4 separate regions of the Homo sapiens genome follow, and all the other regions are reported to be linked to region 4. Evidence: microRNA targets listed by miRTarBase, many of them from high-throughput screens and not tested one by one. Region 4 holds a microRNA gene; each other region holds the end of a gene's coding sequence.
The links. The annotated mature microRNA hsa-miR-652-5p reads CAACCCUAGGAGAGGGUGCCAUUCA and lies in region 4 at 2,343-2,367, shown strand. An mRNA with a match to its seed (bases 2 to 7 or 8) in the 3' UTR can be bound and repressed. Matches are read on the target gene's strand: a 7mer-m8 pairs with bases 2 to 8, a 7mer-A1 pairs with bases 2 to 7 and ends in A, and an 8mer does both.

Region 1: miRTarBase lists GARIN1A as a target of hsa-miR-652-5p. Seed matches in the 3' UTR shown: 7mer-A1 at 1,946-1,952.
Region 2: miRTarBase lists GDPGP1 as a target of hsa-miR-652-5p. Seed matches in the 3' UTR shown: 7mer-m8 at 1,865-1,871.
Region 3: miRTarBase lists ARSB as a target of hsa-miR-652-5p. Seed matches in the 3' UTR shown: 7mer-m8 at 3,784-3,790.

The regions. Positions count from the first base shown.
Region 1 is chr7:128,681,785-128,688,905 of GRCh38, forward strand. GARIN1A (golgi associated RAB2 interactor 1A) reads left to right here. Exons shown (of 5, transcript NM_001128926.4): 5 at 1,180-6,093. The coding sequence ends at 1,375. Among named protein-coding and RNA genes, the nearest start is that of GARIN1A, 13 kb to the left of the region's middle.
Region 2 is chr15:90,240,670-90,247,790 of GRCh38, forward strand. GDPGP1 (GDP-D-glucose phosphorylase 1) reads left to right here. Exons shown (of 4, transcript NM_001013657.3): 4 at 231-5,142. The coding sequence starts at 240. The coding sequence ends at 1,397. It also overlaps a transcript of CIB1 not described here. Among named protein-coding and RNA genes, the nearest start is that of TTLL13, 5.3 kb to the right of the region's middle.
Region 3 is chr5:78,774,345-78,781,465 of GRCh38, reverse strand. ARSB (arylsulfatase B) reads left to right here. Exons shown (of 8, transcript NM_000046.5): 8 at 804-4,257. The coding sequence ends at 1,069. Among named protein-coding and RNA genes, the nearest start is that of LHFPL2, 130 kb to the right of the region's middle.
Region 4 is chrX:110,053,007-110,060,127 of GRCh38, forward strand. It overlaps MIR652 (microRNA 652), which reads left to right and starts at 2,323; the gene lies at 2,323-2,420. The region is part of intron 2 of TMEM164 (transmembrane protein 164); the gene reads left to right.

The DNA of each region.
Region 1 (7,121 bases), not on the chromosome of region 4:
GAGCCATCACAGCTGGCCAGGAGCTTTCTTGGGTTCTTTGAAATCTCCTTTCTGGCCCCTCAACTGCAACACCTCCCTTTCATCTGGCCACACTGCACCCCCCCCCACAACCCCCCTGGCCATGGCTCTGCAGGGACCATGCTCCCCCAGGCACTAGCTATCCCCTTTAAGGAGTCCTCCTGGGTAAGGCTTACAGTGGCTCCAGGCTGGTGTACACTTGCTTGCTCTCTCTCATACAGTCCACATCTGGTCCTCAGGAATCATCCTCTCATATTTTGACCAGCCATTGGAGAGGAGGACCTTGCTTCCTAGGCACAGAAACAACTCTTCTCCCAGAGTCCTAGAGCCACAGCTCAAGCCCCCTGGGTTGTCCAAGGAAGGCTCTCTCTTTCAGCTTAAGGAAAAGGAGCCAGCAACTCTTTACAAAGGACTCTCTCCCCACGTGACAACCCAAGCCCTTGGTTACCAAGGCTGGCAATCCCTTCAGGCAGCCCAGCTCACTCTCACTTCTCTGATCTTAAATTTTTAGTCCCCGGGATTTTGTCTTTGAGTCATAATACATTATATTCTCAACACATCAAAGCAGTACTTAAGGTTTGAAGAGTTGTTTGTTCCTCCACAGGGCAGGCCTTAGCTCCAGGCTCCCTCCTCCTCCTCTGTGGCTTTCTCTCCTCGGGTTGCCCTTAACATTATTGCATGTGTGCATATTGTCACTGCCCCACATTTCCATATTTCTACATGTCCTTAAAGCACTGGAGCTGGAAAAAGGCATGATTAGAAAGTGAGTTGGTTTTTTTTGTTTTGTGTTGTTTTTTGAGAAGGAGTCTCACTCTGTCACGTAGGCTGGAAGTGGTGCCATCTCTGCTCACTGCAAGCTCCGCCTCCTGGGTTCAAGCAATTCTCATGCCTCAGCCTCCCGAGTAGCTGGAATTACAGGCGTGTGCCACATGCCTGGCTAATTTTTGTATTTTTAGTACAGACGGGGTTTCACCATGTTGGCCAGGCTGGTCTTGAACTCCTGACCTCAAGTGATCCGCCCACCTCGGCCTCCCAAAGTGCTAGGATTACAGGTGTGAGCCACTGCACCCAGCTGAAAGTGGTTTTTAAGTTAAATTTTAACAATGTTTTCTTTTTCTTCTATTGCTTTCAATAACCCCAAAATTCCCTGGGCTCCTACAGGAACAATGACACTGCCATTGAAATAGACAACTGCAGCAGCTACAAGATACCCTCTCCAGTGGCATCTCCAATCAATTTGAATATACCCATGAGAGCTGCCTTGAGCCACAGCCTCTGGGAACAAGAGGACTGGAATGAGCACCTTCTACAAGTTCATATAGCCAGTTACCTAGGAGAGCACTTCTTGGGAGCCTGACACCTAGGCAAAACATGCTCTTCCTTGCATACGTGTACTTGCTACCACCTCTTATAATGCTCCTTTTCCACTGTGAGCCAAGTGACCTTGGGAGAGGTAAGATGGTGTTTCCAACAAGGTGCTTCTCTACTTCCACCAATAAACTTCCAAGTGAGTCCCTAATTTTTGCAGGTTGGGCTATAGGGAGGCTCCAGTTTGGGAAAGGACTGACTGAGAACAGGAGCAGTTTTTGGAAAAATAGGTGGGAAAAGTTACTGTCTGTGTGTACAGAGAACTACCTGAGACTGGGTAATTTTATTTATTTATTTATTTATTTATTTATTTATTTTGGAGATAGAGTCTTGCTCTGTCTCCAGGCTGGAGTACAGTGGTGCGATCATGGCTCACTGCAACCTCCACCTCCTGGGTTCAAGCAATTCTCCAGCCTCAGCCTCCCAAGTAGCTGGGACTACAGGCACACACTACACCTGGCTAAGTTTTTATATTTTAGTAGAGATGGGGTTTCACCACGTTGCCCAGGCTGGTCTCCAGCTCCTGAGCTCAGGCCATCCAGTCACATTGGCCTCTCAAAGGGTTAGGATTACAGGCGTGAGCCACCAGGCCCAGCCTCGAGTCTGGGTAATTTATAAAGAAAAGAGGTTTAATTGGCTCATGGTTCCCCAGGCTGTACAGGAAGCATGACTGGGGAGGCCTCAGGAAACTTACAATCAAGGCAGAAGGCAAAAGAGAAGCAGACCTGTCCTACGAGTCTGGAGCAGGAGAAAGAAAGAAGTGGGAGGTGCTATGCACTTTTAAACAACCAAATCTCGTGAGAACTCACTATCATGAGAACAGCAAGGAGGAAATCCACCCCCATGATCCAATCACCTCCCACCAGGCACCTCCTCCAACACTGGGGATTAAATTCAACATGAGATTTGGGCAGGGAGACAGATCCAAATCATATATCAGTCTGCTCAGTTGAAACCACACAATAGCCAAGCAAAGCCAAGAAAGCCAGTCCAAGGCTGGCTTGGAAAGGGCCTCTGAGGAGAAATCAACTTTCAAAGGGGCAGGGGGAAATAGAGGTTGAGCTACTGCAAGCCCAAAATAAAAGAAATCCTGAGAAGGATGGTAACCAGCTGGAAGATTCCTTTGTGTTGCTCCACTATATCAAGCAAGAAATTGAGTCTTTGGCTGGGCGCGGTGGCTCTTGCCTGTAATCCCAGCACTTTGGGAGGCTAAGGTGTGCAGATCACTTGAGGTCAGGACTTCGAGACCAGCCTGGCCAACATGGCAAAGCCCTGTCTCTACCCAAAATACAAAAATTAGCTGGATGTGGTGGTGCACACCTGTAGTCCCAGCTACTCAGGAGGTTGAGGCAGGAGAATTGCTTGAACCAGGAGGCAGAGCTTGCAGTGAGCTGGGATCATGCCACTGTGCTCCAGCCTGGGTGACAGAGCCAGACTCCATCTCAAAAAAAAAAAAAAAAAAAAAAAGAATAAATTAGGTCTTCATTGCCCTGTGTTAGTGTAAAGCTATGAAGGCTCCCCTGGCTCATACAACATTTCATTGCTAATGAAAACATGGTGAGGAAGATATTGACTGCCCATCACCAGAAATTCTGATTAATTTGACTGTTTCTTACCCAGAACCTAATGAAAGTGAACTGGAAGACATGGCATCTTTGAGTATTGGGAATGGGGTAGGAGCTTTGGCCAACCTTTATACACATAGGGAATACTTACAAGGAAAATACCATGACTCCTTTTTTTTTTTTTTTGAGACAGTCTTGTTCTGTTGCCTAGGCTGGAGTGCAGTGGTGTGATCTCAGCTCACTGCAACCTCCACCTCTCAGGTTCAAGCGATTCTTGTGCCTCAGCCTCCCAAGTAGCTGGGATTACAGGTGTGAACCACCAGTCCGGCTAATTTTTGTATTTTTAGCAGACACAGGGTTTCTCCATGTTGGCCAGGCTGGTTTTGATCTCCTGACCTCAGGTTATCCACCCTCCTCGGCCTCCCAAAGTGCTGGGATTACAGGCATGAGCCACCACGCCCAGCCCCACCACGCCCACTCCAATATTTAATAAGTATTTGTCAGGCTCCTGCTAGGTGCTAGACACTGCGTTTGACGCTAAGTATATTGGAGAGAACAAGACAGACGGACAAGTTACCTGCCTTGAGGGAGGGTCTGGGAGAGATGCCAAGTCCTATTTTGGAGACATAGTGAAGCCATTAATGTTGACCTGATGTCTGAGCCACCCAGTCTGCAAATGAAAGCTGGAGGCCCTGCTTTCCAGCATGTGTGGTTCACATCCTATGTGGTGCAGAAAGAAAGAACATGGTTGCCCTCCTCTTGTGCATGCTCAGTTGGGCTGAGCAGTCAAATCTGGCTGAATTGAGTCAGAAAAGACATCTGAGTTAAGAGGATGCCTGATGCTTGTTGGTTTTGTCTTGCCTCCAGTAAAATTAAAAACAAGTTTCCTTTCAGTATGTTACAATCAAATAAGCTGAGCATTGTTGGTGCTGGTGAGGGACATCTAGAAGCTGAACTTAGAAAAGACTAATGTGCAGGGTGATTGTACTTCCAAATGCATGCCTGTTGTCCTGGTATCATTATTAATACATACCCATTTCACTCTGAGAAGTGTCCCTCAGTGAATCACAAATCATGTGGCCATCCTATCTATATGGCATACTTATAAACATTGAAAGGCTTGTCATCCCCACTTCTTTGTCTTGGTTTAAGCCTTCATCAGCCCTCACCTAGACTATTGTATTAATAGTAACCCCAGGCCAGGCATGGTGGCTCAGGCCTGTAATCCCAGCACTTTGGGAGGCTGAGGCGGGCAGATCACGAGGTCAGAAGTTTGAGACCAGCCTGGCCAATATGGTGAAACCCCATCTCTACTAAAAATACAAAAATTAGCTGGGCATGGTGGCGCACACCTGTAGTCCCAGCTACTCGGGAGGCTGAGACAGAAGAATCTCTTGAACCTGGGAGGTGGAGGTTACAGTGAGCAGAGATGGCGCCACCGCACTCCAGCCTGGGCGACAGAGCCAGATTCCGTCTCAAAATAAAATAAAGTAAAATAGTAACCCCAATTGGTCTCCCAGACTTTATCATCATCATCATCATAATAGCTAACATCTTTAGAAATTTGCTATCTTCTAAGCACTATGCTGACTTTACAAAGATCACATAAACCACACCACAAGCCATTGAGAAGTAGATCTTATTATTACATTTTATAAATGATAAACCGGAGCCACAGAGAGGTTCAAGAACTTGCTTAAGGTCACACAGGTAGTAAGTAGCAGAGCCAGGACTTGAAGCCAGTCTGTCTAACTCCAAAATCCAAATTACTCTTGATGCCTCTCCAATGTCTTCCCAACTCATTCCCTTTTCATACCTCTAACAGAGCAACTTTTTGACACATAAATCTGACAGAAAGGACCAGGCACGGTGGCTCATACCTGTAATCCCAGCACTTTGGAAGGCCAAGGTGGGCAGATCACTTGAAGTCAGAAGTTTGAGACCAGCCTGGCCAACATGGTGAAACCCTGTCTCTACTAAAAATGTGAAAATTAGCCAGGTGTGGTGGTGCGCGTCTGTAGTCCCAGCTACTCAGGAGGCTGAGGCAGGAGAATCTCTTGAACTGGGGAGGCAGAGGTTGCAGTGAGCCGAGATCACTCCACTGCGCTCTAGCCTGGGCAACAGAGCAAGATTCCATCTCAAAAAAAAAAAAAATATATCTGACTGAGTTTCCTCCTTAATAAAACCAGACCCTTTGACATGAAATGACTAGACCCCTGCCTCTCTCTCCAGCCTCTCCACTGGCCACTGCTGCCATAGAATCTTATGCTCCCACCATGCCAAATTTCTTGTGGTTCCCTAAATGCGCCATGTTTGAAGATACTTTGAGGACATTGTATATACTTTTGTTCTACCTGAGATACATTTGCTTACTTTCTCCACATATTGCCCTCATGACACTTATCCTTATTGATGGATTTCTTCAATGCTACTATTGTGCCTTACATGTGCCTTGTATTATAGCATTTTTATAGCATTTCTCACCCAATTGTGGCTATTTGTTTACATGTCTGTCTCCTTGGTGGAACTGTGAACTCTGTCATAACAGATGCCATTTTATGTCAGTTAGACTTCTTTGGTTGCCAGTAAGAGAAGCTGACTCTAATCTAAACCAAAAGGAATTCATTGGACGGATGTGGGTTGGCTCACAAAATCAAAGGGACAACTGCGGAGCCGATCTTGGAATGCTCTGACACCAGAACAGCTCTGTGAATTCAGATAGGGGTAGTGAATTGACCATTTCATCAAATGCTGCAGCAAGCTAGGTGGTTTCCCCAAAGGAAATTGAGGAGTGTTACAAGAAGACCATTAGGGGAACGGTTATCTGGTGGCTGATAATAACAAATTTCCATGGCAGTCTCTTTGCTCTCTGTTGGAAGAGGTACTCCACCATGGGCCTTGAGCATCTCTACACATCCTTGCTAAGCGTGTCAAATTTCAAGTCCTAACTGTCCTCTGTCTCTGGAGGAGGAGACAGGTTTGGTTACTGTTTGTTGTAAAAATTACTGAGCCCTTCACCATGGGTGCCTCAGCTGTATGCAAAGCCCCTTGTATTGCTGGGGGACAGAGCAACTGGTACTGCCATGCTGGTGCTCTGGCTGTTTGCTGTTGGCAATAAACTATTCTGTTTTGGTTCATTGAATCTCTGTCTACTTTGGGCACCTATGTGATCATGGTAAATCAACCTGCTTGCTTGCCTAGTCATTTTTTTAGAGTATTGTTACGCCTTGACATCCTCTATGAGACCTAGATTCTTCTCGGACACTGTCCAAACCCACATACAATCTTTTTTTTTTTTGGAGATGAAGTCTTGCTCTGTCGCCCAGGCTGGAGTGCAGTGATCTCGGCTCACTGCAACCTCCACCTCCCAGGTTCAAGCAATTCTCCTGCCTTAGCCTCCCGAGTAGCTGGGATTAAAGGCACGCGCCACCACATCCAGCTAATTTTTGTATTTTTAGTAGAGATGGGGTTTCACTAGGTTGGCCAGGATGGTCTCGATCTCCTGACCTCATGATCTGCCCACCTCGGCCTCCCAAAGTGCTGGGATTACAGGCGTGAGCCACCGCGCCTGGCCCCCCTGGTTTCTTCCTTACCTTTGTATCACAAAACTTCTAGACCAAACAGTAAATATAAACGCCACAAGCATACCCTATGCACAAAATGAGAGAAGGATTTAATTTAAATAACATACATCACTGCAAAGAAAGAAATACAGGTGGAAGTTTTAGTTCTTTCTGCTTCTTGGTTACAAGTCAGTAGTAGTTGTCATTTCTTACTTCCCTCCTATACTACCATTCCAGGTACCTCTTGCTTTGACTGGGTTCATTCCCTGGTAGGGAGTCCACAAACTTTCACTCCTGAAAATCCTAAGCCCTTGATGGTTTTGCACATGTAGAGTTGTGTGATCTTCTTTTGACTGGGCAAGAGCTGTAAAGAGGCATCTCAGTTTCCTCTGAGTACCATTCCTACTCCTCTCTGCCCCCATTCTGTAGAACCATCTTTTTGCTTTTAATAATAACGGTCCCCCCTCCCCCTCCCCTCCCCCTCCCCCTCCCCCCTCCCTCTCCCCACAGTCTCCCTCTCCCTCTCTTTCCACCGTCTCCCTCTGATGCCGAGCCGAAGCTGGACTGTGCTGCCGCCATCTCTGCTCACTGCAACCTCCCTGCCTGA
Region 2 (7,121 bases), not on the chromosome of region 4:
GGGCATGGTGGTGCCTGCCTGTAACCCCAGCTGCCCAGGAGGCTGAGGCGGGAGAACCGCTTGAACCCAGGAGGCGGAGGTTACAGTGAACCAAGATCACTGCCACTGCACTCCAGCCTGGGTGACAGAGTGAGACTCCATCTCAAAAAAAAAAATAAATAAATAAATACAATGACAATCTCTGGAGGTGGGTTACCATCATGTGTTTTCATCTTTTATGACTATTTCAGGTCAGCTCTATGGCTCTTCCACATGATTCAAACGAAACTTCCTATTTGCTGCCTCCCAACAATGAGGACTGGGGCAGGCAAACCATTCCTGACTTTGTTTATGGGCAGAAGGATCTCATGGCAGAAGGGATTCAGTGGCCAAGGAATGCACCTGGCATCCCAGATGCTCTGCCACAATCTCCCTTTGATGCTGCACTCTGCTCTGCCTGGAAGCAGCGGGTGGAGCTGGGGCTGTTTCGCTACCGTCTACGGGAGCTACAGACCCAAATCCTCCCTGGTGCTGTGGGTTTCGTGGCTCAGCTGAATGTGGAGCGTGGTGTGCAGAGGAGGCCCCCGCAGACCATCAAGAGTGTGAGGCAGGCATTTGACCCTGTACAGTTCAACTTCAACAAGATCCGGCCCGGAGAAGTCCTCTTCCGTTTGCACCGGGAGCCTGATCTCCCTGGGACTCTGCTGCAAGAAGACATCCTGGTGGTGATCAACGTCAGCCCCCTGGAGTGGGGCCACGTGCTGCTGGTGCCTGAGCCTGCCCGCCAGCTCCCCCAGCGCCTGCTGCCGGGTGCACTGAGGGCAGGGATTGAGGCTGTGCTGCTGAGCTTACACCCGGGCTTCCGTGTCGGCTTCAACAGCCTGGGAGGCTTGGCCTCGGTGAACCACCTCCACCTGCATGGCTATTACCTGGCCCACAGACTGCCCGTGGAGCAGGCGCCAAGCGAGCCCCTGGACCCTGGAGGCCATTTGCATCTGCTCCAGGACCTCCCAGCTCCTGGCTTCCTCTTTTACACTCGTGGGCCAGGGCCTGACTTGGAGTCCTTGATAAGCAGGGTATGTCGGGCCACTGATTATCTGACTGACCATGAGATTGCTCATAACTTGTTTGTCACCCGGGGAGCTCCGCCGGGAAAGACATCACCTTCCTCAGCCCTCACAGGGGTCCGAGTAATTCTGTGGGCCCGGAAGTCCAGCTTTGGGATAAAGGACGGTGAAGCTTTCAATGTTGCCCTCTGTGAGCTGGCTGGGCACCTCCCTGTCAAAACATCCCAGGACTTCAGCAGCCTGACAGAGGCAGCTGCTGTGGCCCTCATTCAGGACTGTCGGCTGCCCCCATCCCAGGCAGAAGACGTACAGGCAGCACTGGTGGCCCTGATGTCCCAGGAAGAGCAATAATACTTCTGGATGTATTTATGTTCTTTTTTTCTTTTCTTTTGAGATAGGGTCTCACTCTGTCCCCAGGCTAGAGTGTAGTGGTATGATCCTGGCTCACTGTAGCCTCCACCTCTGGGGCTGAAGTGATCCTCCCACCTCAGCCTCTTGAGTAGCTGAGACTATAGGCGTGCACCACCACACACCTGGCTTTTTTTTTTTTTTTTTTTTTTTTTAACGATTAGGTGATTTTGTATTTTTTTATATAGACAGCGTTTCACCATGTTGCCCAGGCTGGTCTTGAACTCTTGGGCTGAAGCAGTCCTCCCACCTCGGCCTCCCAAAGTACTGAGATGACAGGAGTGAGCCCCTGGATTCTTTTCTGTTTCTTTTTTTTTTTTTTTTTTTTTTTTTTTTTTTGAGATAGTCTCGCTCTGTCACCTAGGTTGGGGTGCACTGGTACAATCTCGGCTCACTGCAACCTCCACCTCTAGGGTTCGAGTGATCCTCCTGGCTCAGCCTCCCGAGTAGCTGGGACTATACAGGCTCCTGCCACCAAACCCGGCTAATTTTTTTGTATTTTTAAAAGAGAAGGGGTTTCACCACATTGGCTAGGCTGGTCTTGAACTCCTGACTTTAGGTGATCCGCCCGCCTCGGCCTCCCAAAGTGCTGGGATTACAGGCGTGAGCCACCACACCCAGCCAGGATGTATTCATTTTCTACCTGATGAGTCCCTTTCCAGAGCACTGTCCATCATAGTCCTTTGGACATTTATTTTCATGGCTGCCTTCTCACCTGTCTCAGCCTAAGAAGAAGGATGAAGAAAGCTGATAATGATCTCTTAAAGGGGAGAAAGATAATGGTCTCTTTAAAGGGGAGCTGATAGTGGTCTCTTTAAAGGGGAGAAAATCTGGAATAATTCTACTGAGTAAGACATCATGAATGTATCTGCTACCTCTCCCCGTTCTTGTTCAAGCCCCAGGGGTGTTAAAAAGGAGTGTGTGTGACAGTTACACACTCCTGACTTTACATTTAGATTTTGTCTTCCTTTGATATCAAATGTTAGCACGGTAATAGTGCCTGTGCCTCCAGTATTGAGCTGCCACTTCTGTTCTCAGCCTGTTTATTCCCCTTTGCTCACCACTTATTTTTATTGCTTTGTCCCTTCTTTCCATTTAGCCCTGCTCCACCCAAATGCCCCACTCCTTCACTTTCCCTGCCACCTTGAGCTTTCCTCTAGCCCCCAACACCAAGTTGAATGCTCTTCACTGACATCATCTGATGTAAAAACACAGTGTTGTCACAACTTTCCGGGTGCACGTCTTTTTTTGTTTTGTTTTTTTGTAAGGCTGGGGTGCAGTGGTGCAATCACAGCTCACTGCAGACCCAAACTCTTGGTCTCAAGCCACCCTCCCACCTCAGCCCCCTGAGTAGCTGGGACGATAGGTGTGCACCATCACACCTGGCTAATTTTTAAATTTTTTGTAGAGATAGGGTCTTGCTATGTTGCCCGGGTTGCTGTCAAACTCCTGGCCTTAAGAAATCCTCCCACCTCGGCCTCCCAGAGTGCTAAGATGCCACCACACCTTGGTGCAGGTTTTTTTTTTTTTTTTTTTTTTTTTTTTTTGACACAGGGTCACTGTCACCCAGGCTGGAGTGCAGTGGTATGAAGACAGCTAACTGCAAGCTTCAACCTCCTGGGCTCAAACAATACTCCCATCTCAGCCTCCCTAGTAGCTGGGACCACAGGCATGCGCCACCACACCCGGCTATTTTTTTGGAGAGATAGCATCTTGCCAAGTTGCCCAGGCTGGTCTCGAACTCCTGGCCTCAAGATCCTCCCACCTCAGCCTCCCAAAGTGCTGAGATTATAGGCATGAGCCACTGCACCTGGCCTGAGTTTTTTTTTTTTTTTCTTGAATCAGAGTTTCACTCTGTTGCCCAGGCTGGAGTGCAGTGGTGTGATCTCGGCTCACTGCGTCTCTGCCTCCTGGGTTCAAGCAATTCAGCCTGAGTCTTCTTAATACCCCCATTCAAAACGGGATGGAGACTGACAGTTTGTACTTTGTTCAAGGTCAGGCAGCTGGAGTCGGGACTGCAGCACAGGCAGGTACCAGAAGATGAGCTGGGACAATGTGTGCTTGTGACCGCCTCTCCAGTCAGTGGTTCCCATGGTGGGTAGCACTGTCCTTAACAGTTTGCCCTCCCTGAGCCTCAGCCATCCCTCTTGGGGTCTTTCCCAAGCACTTTAGAAGCTCCTCTTGATGTAGACACAAAATCCAAAGCTAAGTCGTTGTTCCTCCGTCTGCATCTGAGTCAATGTGGGAAATTTTTTTTTATCTCATTGCTTTGTTCTGTCCTGTTTCTCCAGACATTTCACACTGGTTCCAGAGGAACTAGTCAGTAGACACTATTCTAAGAGAGTATGTGGGTGTGAAATCTCATTTTCCTTTTAGCTCCCTTGAATGTTATACAGCAAAAGTAAAAGAAGTCTTGGGTTGGCTGGGCACGTTGGCTCACACCTTTAATCCTAGCACTTTGGGAAGCCGAGGCAGGCAAATCACTTGTCAGGAGTTCGAGACCAGCCTGGCCAACATGGTGAAACCCCATCTCTACTAAAAATACAAAAATTAGGCGTTGTGGCGGCCACCTGTAATCCCATCTACTTGGGAGGCTGAGGCAGGAGAATCACTTGAACCCAGGAGGCGGAGGTTGCAGTGAGCTGAGATTGCACGACTGTACTCCAGCCTGGGCGATAGTGCGAGACTCAGTCTCAAAATAAATAAATACATAAAGTCTTGGGTCCAGCTCTCAACAGAGATTATCACCGCCACCACTCCTTCATCAAACATCCTGAAGGAATGAGAGTCCCTGTTCACAGCGTAAGGGTGAAAGGGGGCTCACACAGGTGGGTTCTGGCTGCTGTCTGAGTGGGCTCACCCAGGAGGGGTTTTGATTTCTCTGCCTCCCAAACTGTGGGTCCTAGCCCTGGCTTAGGCCTTCAGGTCGTTGGCTCCCTATACCTAGGCCTGTATAAAGCCTTAGTTTCCAGTTTTCATTAGAGGTTTTACATCCCAAATGATGTTACAAAGTCTCCCTGTGATAAAGCAGAATATGTGTCCATAGCCCATTTTATAAGAAAAACAGTTTAGGCCAGGTGCGGTGGCTCACGCCTGTAATCCCAGCACTTTGGGAGGCTGAAGCAGGCAGATCACAAGGTCAGGAGTTCAAGACCAGCCTGGCCAACATGGTGAAACCCCGTCTCTACTAAAAACACAAAAATTAGCTGGGTGTGGGTGCACATCTATAGTCCCAGCTACTCAGGAGGCTGAGGCAGGAGAATCGCTTGGACCTGGGAGGCGGAGGTGGCAGTGAGCCGAGATCGCGCCACTGCACTCCAGCCTGGGCGGCAGAGAGAGACTTTGTCTCAAAAAAAAAAAAAAAGAAAAAAACAGTTTACCATTCTATCAGAAAATGTTGACCACCCTCATATTTTTGGTAAACTGCAGTAATTTTTCCTTAATACTTTTTGCAAGCTTTTGCATGCATAAGCTCCAGTATCACACTTAATTTTGCTTGCTTGCTCTCTGAAGGGAGTTCGGATGACCATTACAGCAAAGTGGATTTTGCGTTCAAAGTGATAAGCCAAATATCAGGATTTTCCCAGTTTCTCCGTAGGACTGATGTTTAGAGGAAAGCCTTCCCTGACTCAAATATGTTTCTCCATATAAAAAGGGGAAAGTAAAATGGGTTTTCTTTCTGGTGGTATTTCTCAGCTATTTATATGCTTTGTGAATCTTCAAGAAGAGCATTTGGACTGCAGCTTTTTCTACTGAGTAGGAAACACGTAGGGGCCCTTTGTACTCCGAGCCCTGGGCTTTGAGTATGGTAGGAAGTGCTGACCCAGCCCAGGACCTCCCCACGTTTTTGCTTAACTCTTCATGCAGAGGCCGGGCACGGTGGCACACTCCTGTAATCCCAGCACTTTGGGAGGCCGAGGCGGGCAGATCACCGGAGGTCAGGAATTCAAGACCAGCCTAACCAACATGGTGAAACCCAGTCTCTACAAAAATACAAAAATTAACCGGGCATGGTGGCATGCGCCTGTAATCCTAGCTACTCAGGAGGCTGAGGCGGAAGAATCGCTTCAACCCAGGAGGCAGAGGTTGCAGTGAGCCAAGATCGTGCCATTGCACTCCAGCCTGGGTGACAGAGCGAGACTCCATCTCAAAAAAAAAATACAAAACAAAAAACGATAATCAGAACTCTTCATGCAGGGCCTCATGTACTAAGAGGGTTTAGACTTGATCTAATGGGAAACCTTGAAGAATACTTAATGTGGGGTAACAGCTTTGCATTTGAGTAACAGCTTTGCATTTGAGGAAGAATACTTACGCTGTAATGGGGAGGATGGATGGAGTGAAGAATAGAATCAGGGAATCCAGTTAACAGACTGCTGAGGCCAGGTGTAGTGGCTCACGCCTGTAATCCCAGCAGCACTTTGGGAGACCCAAGCAGGTGGATCACCTGAGGTCAAGAGTTTGAGACCAGCCTGACCAACATGGTGAAACCCCATCTCTCTGAAAATACAAAAATTAGCCCCGTGTGGTGGCAGATGCCTGTAATCCCAGCTACTCAGGAGGCTGACGCAGGAGAATCACTTGAACCCGGGAGGCAGAGGGTGCAGTGACCCGAGATTGAGCCATTGCACTCCAGCCTGGGCAACAGAGTGAGACTCTGTCTCAAAAAAAAAAAAAAAAAAAAAAAAAAAAAAAAAAAAAAAAAAATTGCTGAATTGTGGCAATTCAGGCAAGAAATGGTGGTCGAGGTCCTAGAATAGTCCCTAGAACACTAAATTGTTTGTTGATGCAATGAGTGTCCTGGAAGTCAAGGGACTGCAGAACATTTCCAGGAGGACCATTTCTTTCTTTCCTTTTTTTTTTTTCTTTTGAGACGGAGTCTCACTGTGTCATCCAGGCTGGAGTGCAGTGGCACGATCTTGGCTCACTGCAACCTCTGCGTCCTGGATTCAAGCAATTCTCCTGCCTAGGCCTCCTGAATAGCTGAGACTACAGGCGTGCGCCACCATGCCCAGCTAATTTTTGTATTTTTAGTAGAGACAGGGTTTCACCATATTGGCCAGGCTGGTCTCGAACTCCTGACCTCGTGATCCACCTGCCTCAGCCTCCCAAAGTGCTGGGATTACAGCCATGAGTCACCACACTGGCCTTTTTTTTCTTTTCTTTTCTTTTTTCTTTTTTTTTTTTTTTTAAGAGAGAGAGTCTCGCTGTATTGCCCAGCCTGGTCTCAAACTCCTGGCCTCCAGTAATCCTCCTGCCTCAGCTTCCCAAGGTGCTGGGATTAGCGATGTAGGCTGCCACTCCTAGCCAGGAGGAGAGTTTCATATGAGAGTATCATATGCTGAGGAAAGATCAAGAAGTCTGTGAATCGGGCAGCCCATTTCTCCATCAGCCAGGAAGGACATTGGTGTTGAGGTTGACATACCTATCAAGGACAATAACTACCATGGCTTCCAGTGTTTTGATGAAACCTCAGATGCATGACCTCTGGTTTCACATTGCTGTATCCCTGTATAGAGGGTTGTAGCACTCTATACATTTGCTGTGGCTGAACCGGGAAAGAAGGCATATGCAGATTTCTAGAGAAATTATAATTCCATCAAAGATTTTTTTGTTTGCTTTTTTTTTTTGAGACAGAGACTCCCTCTGTCGCCCAGGCTGGAGTGC
Region 3 (7,121 bases), not on the chromosome of region 4:
CCCAGTGGATCATCAAGGAGAAGCTTACCGAAGTAACAAATGCCTTTTGCAAAACATATCTCTGGGGCTGCTGAATGAGGAGATAGGAAGAAATGGTTTAACCTACTCGTCCTAACCAAAAAAAAAAAAAAAAAAAAAAAAAGAGAGAGAGAGAGAAAGACAGAGAGAATTAACTGTAGCAGGGGTGAAAGGAAGAAATGTCACTCTTATGCTTCATGGAAAATACGGATTTTAAATATATGTGGCTATCAAGCACAGCACATTTAGCTAACAAAGAGAGTCTCTGAGAGCTACACCCTCAACCAGTGGTATAGCTGGGGAAGGAGGTTGCTCCTCTGATTATATTCTCTAAGAGTGATATCTTTTCAATACTTTTAAAATATGTGGGATGATGGTTAAGGCTGTGATGTAATTAATCAATGTTTACAATGAGAACATTTTTGGCGTTTGCAATATGACAAGTCTTTTTTGACTGGGATTGTCCCATGTATTGCAAGACTTTAGCATCACTAGCTCATGCCCACTAAATGCCAGGAGCACCCCTATGCCCTAGTCCTTGTGACAAGGACATACACACATGCACACACGTTTCTGGGTGTCCTTGCTTGTGAAGCAGTGAGACATGTCTAGTTAAAGCACCAGAAGTCAAGTCTGAGAAGCATCTAGAGACAGCATCTAGGGCCGCATCTTTTTATGTTTCCACACCCACAACCCAGTGCAGCCTTGGCCTCAGACTCCTTCCCTGAAATTAGAACCTGCCTCTGTGCTTCTCCCTCAGTAAACTGTTTTGTTTTCTTTGCTAGGCTGTGGTTACTGGTTCCCTCCACCGTCTCAATACAATGTTTCTGAGATACCCTCATCAGACCCACCAACCAAGACCCTCTGGCTCTTTGATATTGATCGGGACCCTGAAGAAAGACATGACCTGTCCAGAGAATATCCTCACATCGTCACAAAGCTCCTGTCCCGCCTACAGTTCTACCATAAACACTCAGTCCCCGTGTACTTCCCTGCACAGGACCCCCGCTGTGATCCCAAGGCCACTGGGGTGTGGGGCCCTTGGATGTAGGATTTCAGGGAGGCTAGAAAACCTTTCAATTGGAAGTTGGACCTCAGGCCTTTTCTCACGACTCTTGTCTCATTTGTTATCCCAACCTGGGTTCACTTGGCCCTTCTCTTGCTCTTAAACCACACCGAGGTGTCTAATTTCAACCCCTAATGCATTTAAGAAGCTGATAAAATCTGCAACACTCCTGCTGTTGGCTGGAGCATGTGTCTAGAGGTGGGGGTGGCTGGGTTTATCCCCCTTTCCTAAGCCTTGGGACAGCTGGGAACTTAACTTGAAATAGGAAGTTCTCACTGAATCCTGGAGGCTGGAACAGCTGGCTCTTTTAGACTCACAAGTCAGACGTTCGATTCCCCTCTGCCAATAGCCAGTTTTATTGGAGTGAATCACATTTCTTACGCAAATGAAGGGAGCAGACAGTGATTAATGGTTCTGTTGGCCAAGGCTTCTCCCTGTCGGTGAAGGATCATGTTCAGGCACTCCAAGTGAACCACCCCTCTTGGTTCACCCCTTACTCACTTATCTCATCACAGAGCATAAGGCCCATTTTGTTGTTCAGGTCAACAGCAAAATGCCTGCACCATGACTGTGGCTTTTAAAATAAAGAAATGTGTTTTTATCGTAATTTATTTCCCCCCAGCCATTGCTCACTCTGTCTAGACTTCCTGCCACTTCCAATTCTTCTGTGGCTTTTCCTGCCTTTCCTTTTGACCTCAGTAGTCCTATCCCTGGGAAGGCCACTTTGCTTCTCTACCTGAGCACCCCTGATTTCTGGAACGCTGCTGAGCCCTGCCTTACTTTTGCCCCTAGGGCTGAAGCTAGAGGCCTCCCCGTAATAGGCGGTGGAGTTGCTCTGTGAGGATGTTCATGGTAGACACTAAGAGGGCTGGGTGGGAGATGCTTGGCTCTGTGGCATCTGTTCAGCGAGGCTTTTCCTATATTGCATGGAGTTAGTCATTGTGATTGTAGCTTTATTTCATAATATATTAAGACTTGCACTGCTATTTACTAGCAGTGAGAAGAAACCTCAGGAAAGGATATGAAAAAGCAAGTGGCCAGTGTCTGGGATACTGGGCCTTGGTAAAGCAGAGGAGGGCACACCCACAGTCCTCTTATTCTCTGTTTTACTGCTTGTTTTGAGGTTCTGGGGTCTGGCAAAGAGGATGCAGTTTGACACCTGCAGCCCTTTCTCAATCCCACTAATGTCTTACTAATGTGGAACAGTCCATATTAGCTCCAGAGAGTGTCAAACCCAGAGAAATGTGTGCAAAAATGATACTCTTTTCTGCATTAGCCCCACCATTGTGTTCACCAATGCTTGGAACACTGCCTGAAGGCACTCATTTTTTAATTTTTATTTTATTTTTAATTTTTTATATCTTTATGAGACGATCTCACTCTGTCACCAGGTTGGAGTACAGTGGTACAATCACAACTCACCGTAGCCTCAAACTCCTGGGCTCAAGTGATTCTCCCACCTCAGGCACCCAAATAGCTGGAACTACAGGCATATACCGCCACACCCAGCTAATTTTATTTTTTGAAAAGACAAGGTTCCCTATGTTGCCCAGCTGGTCTTAAACTCCTGGGCTCCAGCAATTATCCCAGCTTGGGCTCCAAAAGTGCTGGGATTACAGGCATGAGTCACCATGCCTGGCCTCATTTTTTAAAACAAATGAATAAATGGACAAATGAGTAAATGAGAAAGTCTCACACCATGAAAGATGCTAGTCCAATGAGCTGAATACAGAGGTAATATAAATGTCTTCCAGCTGTTGCTTTTCTGTTCTCAAGCTGCCCCTCCTGGGGTAGGAGCATAATCTACATCACTGGGCAGTCACAGGACACTCTATAGCAAGGTTGTAGCGTCCTCTCCAGTGGGGGGAGAAAAGGAACTGTGCCTACCAAAGGTACTCTCTTGTCAGCAATTTCCATTTCTATACTTTATGGGACACTAGAAACTAAAAGCAACAAATAATCTGATATAAGTCCTTGTATAGTCATCCTTCAATTCAGTAGCAATATTTTCTGGTCACTACTAACCTGTATTGTATTAAAATGAGACTATTGGAAGGAAATGGTGCTAAAACTAATAACATCTCTTACCAACCTTTACCCAACTCCTGGGTTGGCAAACAGCTGACCAAACTGCCATCACCTCCCACTTGGAAGTGTATGGCCGACAGCATGAAATAGCTGAGCCCAGATGTTCCTTCTGCATCCTCCGAATCCCAGGGCTGGGTGTAGGTAGCCGTTGGAGGCCATCGCTACAGGGCACCTATCTGTTATCGCTGCTGTCCTCCCAACAGCTGTCTCCAGTTCTAGTTCCTTGGTTTTCAGGCACAGTGGGGGATGTTCTGCACCCAGTGGACTTCAAAAGAGTTTTGAAGACTTAATTTTTTGTAAAACAAGTACTTGAGATTTTGGTTTATCCATAATAGAATGTATTTCATTAGATTCTCTGATTCTATATAAGAATGTGAAAAGATTGATATATTGTTGTTAGAAATAATGTTATTTCTTTCCAATTTTTTTTTTTTTTTTTTTTGAGATGGAGTCTCGCTCTGTCACCCAGGCTGGAGTGCAGTGGTGTGATCTCGGCTCACTGCAGCCTCTAACTCCCAGGTTCAAGCTATTCTCCTGCCTCAGCCTCCCAAGTAGCTGGATTACAGGCATACACCACCACGCCTGGCTATGTTTTGTATTTTTCGTAGAGATAGGGTTTCACCATGTTGGCCAGGCTGGTCTCAAACTCCTGACCTCAAGTGATCCACCCACTTCAGCTTCCCAAAGCACTGGGATTACAGGTGTGAGCCACTGTGCCCGGCAAATTTTTTTACCTTTACAGAAGGTTTTGCTTATTTAATTGTGAGCTCATTTTTCTTTGTTACTTTTGTCCCCCCAGATTTGGGGGACAAAATAAAATTAATCTTTTAAAATGTGTCAGCCATATGTATGGGGCTTCCATTTGGGGTGAGGAGAAAGTTCTGGAACTAGATAGTGGTCATGGTTATACAACATCATAAATGCAATTACTGCCACTGAATTGTATGTTTTAAAGTGGTTAAAATGTTAAGTTTTATGTTTTATTACAATTTTTAAATGTGTCAACCAACTTTATAGTACATAAATTATATCTCAGTAAAGCTGTTAAATAAATAAATATAGTAAAAATTTTAGAACTAAAAAAAGTGTCAATCATTGCCCTAAGAATATAAACTATAAAATAAGGTATTAGAGGGAGGTCAAGGAAGGGTAGGAGTGAAAACAAAGTGACAGTAAAAGAGAGTATTAGCTCTCTATTGCTGCGTAACAAATTACCCCAAAACTTAGCAGCTTAAAACAATAAACATTCATAACTTCACACATTCTATGAGGGTAAGGACACTGGGAGTGGTTTAGCCCAGTGGTTCTGGCTCAGGGTCTCTCGTGAGATTGTTGTCAAGCAGGCCTGTGGTCATCTGAAGACTTGAGTGGGGCTGCAGGCTCCACTTTTAAGCTGACTCACTCACAAGGCTCTTGGCTGGAGGCCTCAGCTCCTTGCCATGTGGGCATCTCCACAGGCTGCTTGGATGTCCTCACACATGGCAGTTAACTTCCTCCAGAGCAAATAAACAGGGAGCCACAGGGCCTTTCATGACCTAGTCTCTAGAGGTGTACACTGTCACTTATACCATTTTTCTATTTGTTAGAAATGAGTCACTAAGGCCAGCCCATATTCTAGGGGAGGAAAATCTTACTTTTCAAAGGGAGTGTCAGATTTGTGGACTTATTTCACACCACATCAGAGGAAAATGGTCTCGTTTAGCCTCCTGGGGAATAGATTGTCAAGTCCACATGCATTTATCAAATGCTGCTGTTTGAAAAGAGATGGTAGAAAAAGCATTCAACTTTGCTATTTAGCAGTAGACTAACCATGAACAAATCACTTCATCCTCTCTGTGCCTCGGTTTTTTTCCTGGTAAAGTGATGAGTTGAATTAGATAATTGCTAAAGTCTCATATCCCTAGTGTCCAGAACAATGCCTGGCACACAGATATTCTATAAATGTTGGTTGATTGGCTCTCAAATGACTGAAATCCAATGGGAGGATGTGAAATAATACTGTGCTAAAAAAAATAGCCTGAGATTTTCTAAACTCATTTCCTAAATCTCATTTTCTGAAAGTATTCTAATAAAAGCTGCTAATTTTTTTGAGTGCTTACTATATGCCAGGCATTGTACTAGCTGCTTTAAAAAGAGTATCTTGTTTAACATAATTTTTTTCTTGCCTCTTTTTTTTTTTTTTTTTTTTGAGACAGGGGTCTTGCTCTATCACCCAGGCTGGTCTCAAACTCCTGCACTCAAGAAATCCTCCCACCTCAGCCTCCCAAAGTGCTGGGATTATAGGTGTGAGCCACCATACCCAGCCTTTAATATAATTTTTAAATAACTGGAAGTAATGTTTACATTCATTCAATCTTAATTGTAAAAGGCTTACTTGGTTTTCATCTCTTCCATTTTTTCAATAGCCAATCTTTGTTCAAGTGTAAAATGATTTATGTCAAGAAAATAACCAAAATGGGCTTGTAAACATAAACATTTGTGAATAAAACATTTTAAATGATGCAGAGGAATTCACTATTTGAAGAAACCTTTTTGTAAATCTTTTTGTAAATGCAAATTTTTGCTTTTGTATTTCCAAAATCTAAATACATTGACTTCGGTTTCCTAAATTGAGGTTTTGCTGCACAGGTTTTCCTGAAGAAGGATTCATACCCATGTATCAGGTGCTGGGGAGGAGGTATAGTGACCAGAGAAATGATACAAACAAAACTAAAGGCATGGCCCCTGCACCTAAGAGGCTTACAACCTAATTCTATGATATAAAGTTCTTTTCAGCTTAAGTGTTTTTAAGAAAATTGGCCAGGTGCAGTGGCTCACACCTGTAATCCCAACATTTGGGGAGTCTGAGGCGGGAGGATCGCTTAAGCCGAGGAGTTCAAAACCAGCCTGGGCAACATAGTGAACCCCCGCCATCTCTACAAAAAAATTTAAGAATTAGCTGGGCATGGTGGTGCATGCCTGTAGTTCCAGCTACTTGGGAGGCTGAGGTGGGAGGATTGCCTGGGAGGTCGAGGTTGCAGTGAGCCATGATCACACCACTGCACCGCAGCCTGGATAAGAGTGAGACCCTGTCTCAAAAAAAATTAAAATAAAATGCCAGCTGTATTAGTCCAGGTTCTCTAGAGGGACAAGACTAATAGGATAGATGGATATATGAAAGGGAGTTTATTAGGAGAATTGAGTCACATGATCACAAGGTAACGCCCCACAATAGACTGTCTGCAAGCTGAGGAGCAAGGAAGCCAGTCCGAGTCCCAAAACCTCAAAAGTAGGGAAGCCAAGAGCCTCTGGCAAATCAAAGGTATAGGTCCAAGAGTCCAAAAGCTGAAGAACTTGGAGTCTGATGTTTGAGGGCAGGAAGCATCCAGCACGAGAGAAAGATGGAGGCCAGAAGACACAGCCAGTCTAGTCCTTCCATGTTCCTCTCCCTGCTTTTATCCTAGCTGCACTGGCAGCTGATTAGATGGTGCCCACCCAGATTGAGTGTGGGCCTGCCTCTCCCAGTCCACTGACTCAAATATTAACCTCCTTCGGCATCACCCTCACAGACACATGCAGGAACAATACTTTGCATGCTTCAATCCAATCAAGTTGATACTCAATATTAACCATCATACTGGCCGATACTAAATATATTGAAATAATTATTATCCTTTGCAGTGACCACTTAAACTTTAAATCCTATTTTTTGTTCAAGTAGAGAATAGTCATACTGTGTATAGACTGGTTCCTGCTGAAAAGCCCTGACCATCCCTGCTACCCAGGTGGATTCAGATGGTATAGAAGTAACCACCACGTCTCTTGTACCTTTGCCCTGGTGCCATGGGAGCCACCGCCAGGATGGCAGAAGAGGAGAGCGGCAACTCCCTGGGCCTGACATCAGGGATTTGTGGCCATCAGGAAGCTGGAGAGATGTTTTCATTCTCAAACTAATTCACCAAAGTCACCA
Region 4 (7,121 bases):
TCCCAAAGTGCTGGGATTACAGGCGTGAGCCACCATGCCTGGCCTACATGCATCATTTTTTAAAACAGTGATTAATGGAGTCCCCTTTCCCAATTTTTTAATACAAAGGTGTGGATGGGAGATTTGCAGCAAAGATAGGAAAGCAAAGATATAACCCACAATCTTTACTCTTGCCAACAGCTCTTACCTTCTTTCCCACCAAAATTTTCCTTTGATAAAATGTCTTGCTGAGAGTTAGGCTAACTCACCAACCAGCTTTAATTTTGGTTGACAGGGTGCCGTAGAAGACCTTTGCTAGCCAGACTGTGAGCTTCTTGCAGACAGGAATTATGTCCTGCATCACTGTGTGCTCAGAACCTCAGGAAGAACAAACTGATGTAGGCACCAGGAAATAGGTGCTTTTATTACATTCTCATTTTATGCCTTAGAAGCACTGCAAATGGTAGGTATTCTTATTTCTGTTTTAAACAATGAGAAAACTGAGGCTTAAGGAGGTGTAAAAAATACTTTCTTTTAAAAAAAATACACCTCTCCCCCACCATCATAAAAACCCCAACTTTGGCCATAGAGTTCATTGGTGGTGGAGCACTGCAAACATTAGCTGTCCCATGTGGCTTTGACTCTGACACAATTGGTCCTCTTGCTTCAGGGAACTGGATACCATCCATCCCTCCCATGGGTTGGCCTAGGCTCTGTTACTTCAGAGTTTTCTTGACGAGTTTCAAGGTAACCAGGTCATCCTGTTCTACATATTTTTCTGGGATTGAGGTCAAGGAGCAGCATGATCCTCTCTTAAATGGGTCAGAGGAGGAGGACTCCTGTGGCTCCCTGAAAGGTCAAGCCCCTTCATGCTAACTACACCGTCTTCCCTTCTCTTCCAGCTTATGTCCTGGGCTGGGCTCTGGACAGGGAGCAGAGGCAGATGTGCGCATGTGTTCTGGAGGACTTTTATATGTCCGATGGTGTGTTAGGCACTATGTGGAGTGGAGGCAGAGGGAACTCCAGAAAAGATAAATTATCTTATGGTGGAGACAAAAGGTAGTATTGGCAACAAACATGACCTCTGGAATCAGATAGTTTTGGGTTCCAGGCCTGACTCTTTGACTCACTTATTAGTTGTGCGACCTTAGGCAATTTATTTAACCTTTCTGTAGCTCAGTTTCCTTGTATGCAAACAGGAGGAAAATAATAATCTCTTACATAATAGGATTGCTATGAAGAATATATGAACTAATATGTGTAAGACATTGACTGTAGTGCCAGGCACCTAGTAAGCACTCAGTAAGGAATAACTACTGCCATTATTGTTGTTACTAACAACAGTATGAGACTAATAAGTGATTAGTGTATAAGTACCAACAAATACCAATGGAGTTCAGAAAAAGAATGCTTAATTTTTGTGACTTATCCAGGAAATCTCTAGAGGAGACAGAAGAAGTGGAATGAAATATTCCAGGTGGAGCAAATATGAAAGTGGGAGGCTGAACTGAACTGGAGTGGGGAACAAAAAGAAGAAACAAACGCAACATCTGGCACCCTTGAGCTCTACCACCAGCTCACCTGTTGTCACTACCAATATGTCCAGTCCTTTATGGCTCTCCATTTTGGAGTGCCCTGAATTACTGGCTGCAGTTTTGACTTGGCCAGCTAGTTGGCCAGCTGCTCTGACTGAGCTTGAGGGTGTCTGTGCCTTGGTGGAGTTGACACGGGTCCTAACTCTGCAACTTGGTTTGTAGGTTCAAAGCCTAATTTTTATCAGCTTACCCAGGGCTGTTGGTTTCTAGTGGATTGGGTCACACTCCCCAACATTACAAAACACTTCTTAATAAATCACCAGGCTGATAAGTCGATTGATGATGAGAGAGAGACCTTTATAGAGATGAGAACACTTGTGTGTATCAGCCCTTTCTGATATCAAGGTACCTGAAGCCAAATTAAACAGGGACTGTTTTATAACCTAAAATCAGAACCTAATGGAGTTGAAAAGTCTCATGAGCGAGACCATATAGGCTTTGGTAGTCCATGGAAAACTGTACCTTTTTGCATGTCTGTCATAGCTTTGTAGTGTGACCAGAATGTGTGTCCTGTTCTCTCTCCACTGCTGGAGAAACATCAGTAACAATTTTTCTCTTGGATGTTCCTGTTTTCAATTCCATGCAAATGCTGTTTGTGTGCTATGGCCATGCTATTCTCTTGAATTTCTTTTTTCTTGACAAGATTTTTGAGTTGCCTACTTCTCAGCGACAACATAGTGATTCTCTCATTGAGTGTTCTTTTTGGCTTTGTTCTCAAACACTAGGAATGTTTCCAAGCAGGGCCGCCACGAATGGCTATGCACTGCACAACCCTAGGAGAGGGTGCCATTCACATAGACTATAATTGAATGGCGCCACTAGGGTTGTGCAGTGCACAACCTACACAACTGTACTCGGCGGCCCTGGCATAATGTAATGTCAGTACTTTCTTCATCAAGGTACCAGTTTGGGATTGTCCTCAGGGTAAGGGGGCTGAAGCAGTGAGCTGCTGCTGTGACCAGGAAAGGAAGAAAGAAGTAAAGTTGTGGCTTTGGGAGAATTATCTTCTCTGTAAATGAGAGCCATCATATAGGAGAACTACGTACCTTCGTTCTTTCAGTAAATAGTTTTTTAAGTGCCTACTATGTGAGGGTTGAAGAACAGGGAGGGGTTTGCATAGGAGGGAGCATTTGAACTGGGCTTTGTGAAAGAAGTAGAATATTAACATGTGAAGATGAGTCAGGAGGAGAGAATCTCAGGGGGAAGGAATAGCGAGAAGAAAGACAGATGGGAGACCACAAGGGATATATGGGTAATGGTGCATAATTCATCTTGGTTGGATAGAAAAGCATGTAAAAGGGAGTAGTGAGCAATGATGCTGGTCGGGGGTCAAATGATGATGCAGGAGGGGAGGGAGTTGAATGCCCAATTAAGGAATTTGGACTTTTATTTATCAAGCAATAAGGAGCTATCCAAAGTTTGTTTTTTAAACAGCTTTATTGGGTTATAATCATATACCATATAATTCATTCATTTAAAGTGTACAATTGAATGTTTTTAGTATATTCACATATATGTGCAACCACCACCACAGTCAAATTTAGAACATTTTCATCATCCAAAAAATAACTCCATACGATTTAGCTCACCCCCCTCCCTACCTTTCCCCCACTCACCAGCCCTAAGCAATTGTTAATCTACTTTCTGTTTCTATAGATTTTATCTATTCTGGACATTTCATAGAAATTGAGTAATTATAATATGTGACCTTTTTCCACTGGCTTCTTTCACTTAGTATGTTTTCGAGATTCATCTGTGTTTAGCATGTATCAGTACTTCACTTATTTTTATGGCCAATTAATATTCCATTTTAAGGATATGCCACATTTTATGTATCCATTTGTCTGTTGGTGAGCATTTGGGTTGTTTCTGCCTTTTGGCTATTACAGATAATACTTCTGTGAACATCTGTAAGTTTTCAGGTGCACATAGGTTTTTATTTCCCTTGGACATAGGTTTTCATTTCCCCCAGGTATAGGAGTGGAATTGCTGAGTCATATGATAACTCTATGTTTAACCTCTCAAGGAGCTGCCAGACTGTTTCTCTAAAATGGCAGCATCATTTTACATCCCTACCGACAGTATAAAAGGGTTCCAATTTCTCCACATCCTCATGCACACTTGTGTTTGCCTTTTATATTTTGGCCATGCTAGTGGGTATGAAGTGTCATCTCATTGTGGATTTGATTTGCATTTCCCTGATGACTAATGATGTTGAACATCTTTTCATGTGCATGTTGAGTACCCGTGTGTTTTCTTTGGAGAGATGTCTGTTCAAGGTTATTTATCTTTTTATTGTTGAGTTTTTTTAATACTTTAGCTATTTTTAATGTATATATTTAAGGTTTTCAACTTAATGATTATATATATATATGGAAATCACCACAATCAAGATAACACATGCATTACATCATAGAGTTATCATTTATGTGTGTATGCGTGTGTGTGTGTGTTGGAAATACTTAGGATCTATTCTTATAGCAAATTTTAAGTATACAGTACAGTATTTTCACCTATAGTCGCCATGCTGTACATTAGATATCCAGGACTTACTTGTCCTGGAAAACTAAAACTTTGTACTTTTTGACTAACATCTTACTTTCCCAGCACCAGCCCCAGCTAACCATCATTTTATACTCAGCTTCTATGAGTTAGACTAATTTACATTTCATATTTATGTGACATCATAAGATATTTTTCTTTCTGGCTCATTTCACTTAACATAATGTCCTTTGGGTCCTTCTGTGTTACTGCAAATGATAGGATATCCTTCTTTTTAAAGGCTGGATAATATACCACATTTTCTTTATTCATGCATCCATCGATGAACATTTATCTTGTTTCTATATCTTTGCTATTGTGAATAACGGTGCAAGGAATATAGGAGTGCAGATATCCCTTTGAGATCTTGATTTCAACTGTTGGATAAGTATTCCAGAAGTGGGATTGCTGTGTCATAGAATAGGTCTTTTTTTTTTTTTTTTTTTGAAACTATACTATTTTTGATAATGGCTCTATTGATCTCCATCAGCAGTTTTCCAGGGTTCTGTTTTCTCCACACCCTTCCCAATATTGCCATCTTTTGCATTTTTTATAATAGCCATTCTGACAAGGGTGACATGAGATCTCACTGTGGTTTTCATTTGCATATCCCCAATGATTAGTGATGTTGAGCACCTTTTCATATACCTGTTGTCCATTTGTATGCCTTCTTTGGAAAAATGTCTATTCAGATCCTTTGCCCATTTTAAAATTGGGTTATTTGTATTTCTGCTATTGAGTTTATGAGTTCTTTACATATTTTAAATATTGACATCAAATTTGTGGTTTGCAAATATTTGCTATATAGCTTTTTAGGTTGATGTAGTCCTAATTGTTTTTGTTTGTTTGTTTTTTACTTTTCTTGCACGTGCTTTTGATGTCATATTCAAAAAATCATTGCCAAGACCAATTTCAAGAAGTTTTTCCTATGTTTTCTTCTAGGAGTTTTATGGTTTCAGATGTTACATTTAAGTCTTAAGCCCATTTTGAGTTGGTTTTTGTGTGTGGTGTAAGATAAGAGTCTGATTTCATTACTTTGCGTGTGGATATCCAGTTACCCCAACATCATTTGTTCAAGCAAGCATCTTTTCCCCCATTGTGTATTTTTGACCCTCTAAGGTTCTTTATTCCTTTTCATCCTTTTTTTTCTTTTTCTCTTCTGATGAGGTAATTTTAAATAACTGTTCTTCAAATTTGCTGGTTCTTTCTTCTGCTTGATAAATCTCCTGTTTTTAGTTGAGTCATTGTATTCCTCAGCTCCAGAATTTGTTTGGCTGTTGTTTACAGTTTCTATCTTTTTATTTAACTTTTCATTTTGATCATACATTGTTTTCCTGATTTCATTGAGTTGTCCATCTGTTAATTTTCTTTTTTATTGTTGAGTCTTAAGAGCTATTTATTCTGAATACTAGACTCCTATTAGATACATGATTTGCAGATTTTTTCTCCCATTCTTTGGGTCCCCTCCCCTCCCCTCCCCTTTCTTTCTTTTTTTTTTTTTTGAGACAGAGTCTCACTCTGATGCCCAGGCTGGAGTGTGCAGTGGTGTGATCTCAGCTCACTGCAACCTCTGCCTCCCTGGTTCAAGCACTTCTCCTGCCTCAGCAGGAGAAGTAATCCCAAGTAGCTGGGATTACAGGCATGTGATGTGCCACAACGCCTGGCTAATTTTTTTTTTTTTTAATTTTTAGTAGAGACAGAGTTTTGCTGTGTGGGCCAGGCTGGTCTCAAACTCCTGACCTCAAGTGATCTGCCTGCCTCGGCCTCCCAAAGTGCTGGGATTACAGGTGTGAGCCACCATGCTCAGTCTGGGATGTCTTTTCACTTTCTTAATAGTGTCATTTGAAGCATGAAATATTTTAATTTTGGTGAAGTACAGTATATTTATTTTTTCTTTTGTTGCTTGTGCTTTTGGTTACATCTTAGAGTCTGTTACCAAATCCTAGGTCATGACATGTATCCCTATGCTTTCTTTTACAAGTTTTATAGTTTTTGCTCTTACAGTTAGGTCTTTGATTTTGAGTGAATTTTTGTATATGGGTTATGAGGTAGGGGTCCAACTTAATTCTTTTGCCTGTGGATAACCAGTTGTCCCAGCATCATTTGTTGAAGAGACTGTTCTTTCTACCATTGGATGGTCTTGATACCTTAGTCAAAAATCACTTCTGAGGATTTATTTCAGTACTCTCAATTCTATTCTGTTGGTCTCTGTGTCTTTCCTTAGGTTAGTACCACACTGTCTTTGTTACTGTTGCTTTGCCATAAGTTGAAATCAGGCTGTGTAAGTCCTCCCACTTTTTCTTTTCAAGGTTGGTTTGGCTGTTTGGGGTCCCTTGCATTTCCATATGAATTTTAAAATCAGCGTGTCAGTTTCTACAAAAAAAAATGTCAGCTGGGATTCTGATACGTACTGTGATGAATCTGTCATTTAAAACTTTCAAGGAGGAGTGTAACAGGATCAGAATGCTATTTTAAGAATAGGAACCTGACAATACTATATAAAATTAGAGCAAGCTTGTCCAGCCTGTGGACTGCATGTAGCCCAAGACAGCTTTGAATGCAGCCCAACACAAATTCATAAATTTTCTTAAAACATTATGAGATTTTTTTGCAATTATTTTAAAAAGATCATCAGCTATCATTAGTGTTAGTGTATTTTATGTGTAGACCGAGACAATTCTTCTTCCAGTGTGGCTCAGGGAAGCCAAAAGATTGGACACCCGTGAATTAGAGTGATGAAGGAAAAACACTGGATACTTGGAGATCAGATAGGAAACTGCTGTAGTAGTTTAAGAAAATGATAGGGACCAAACTAGGAAAAGATAGTGAGGGTGGATTTCAGATGTATTGAAAAGGTTGGGCTGGGTGCAGTGGCTCACACTAGTAATCTTAGTGCTTTGGGAGGCTGAGGTGGGAGGATCACTTGAAGCCAGGAGCTTGAGACCAATCTGGGTAACAAAATGAGACCCCATATGTACAAAAAATAAAAAATAAAAATAGCTAGGT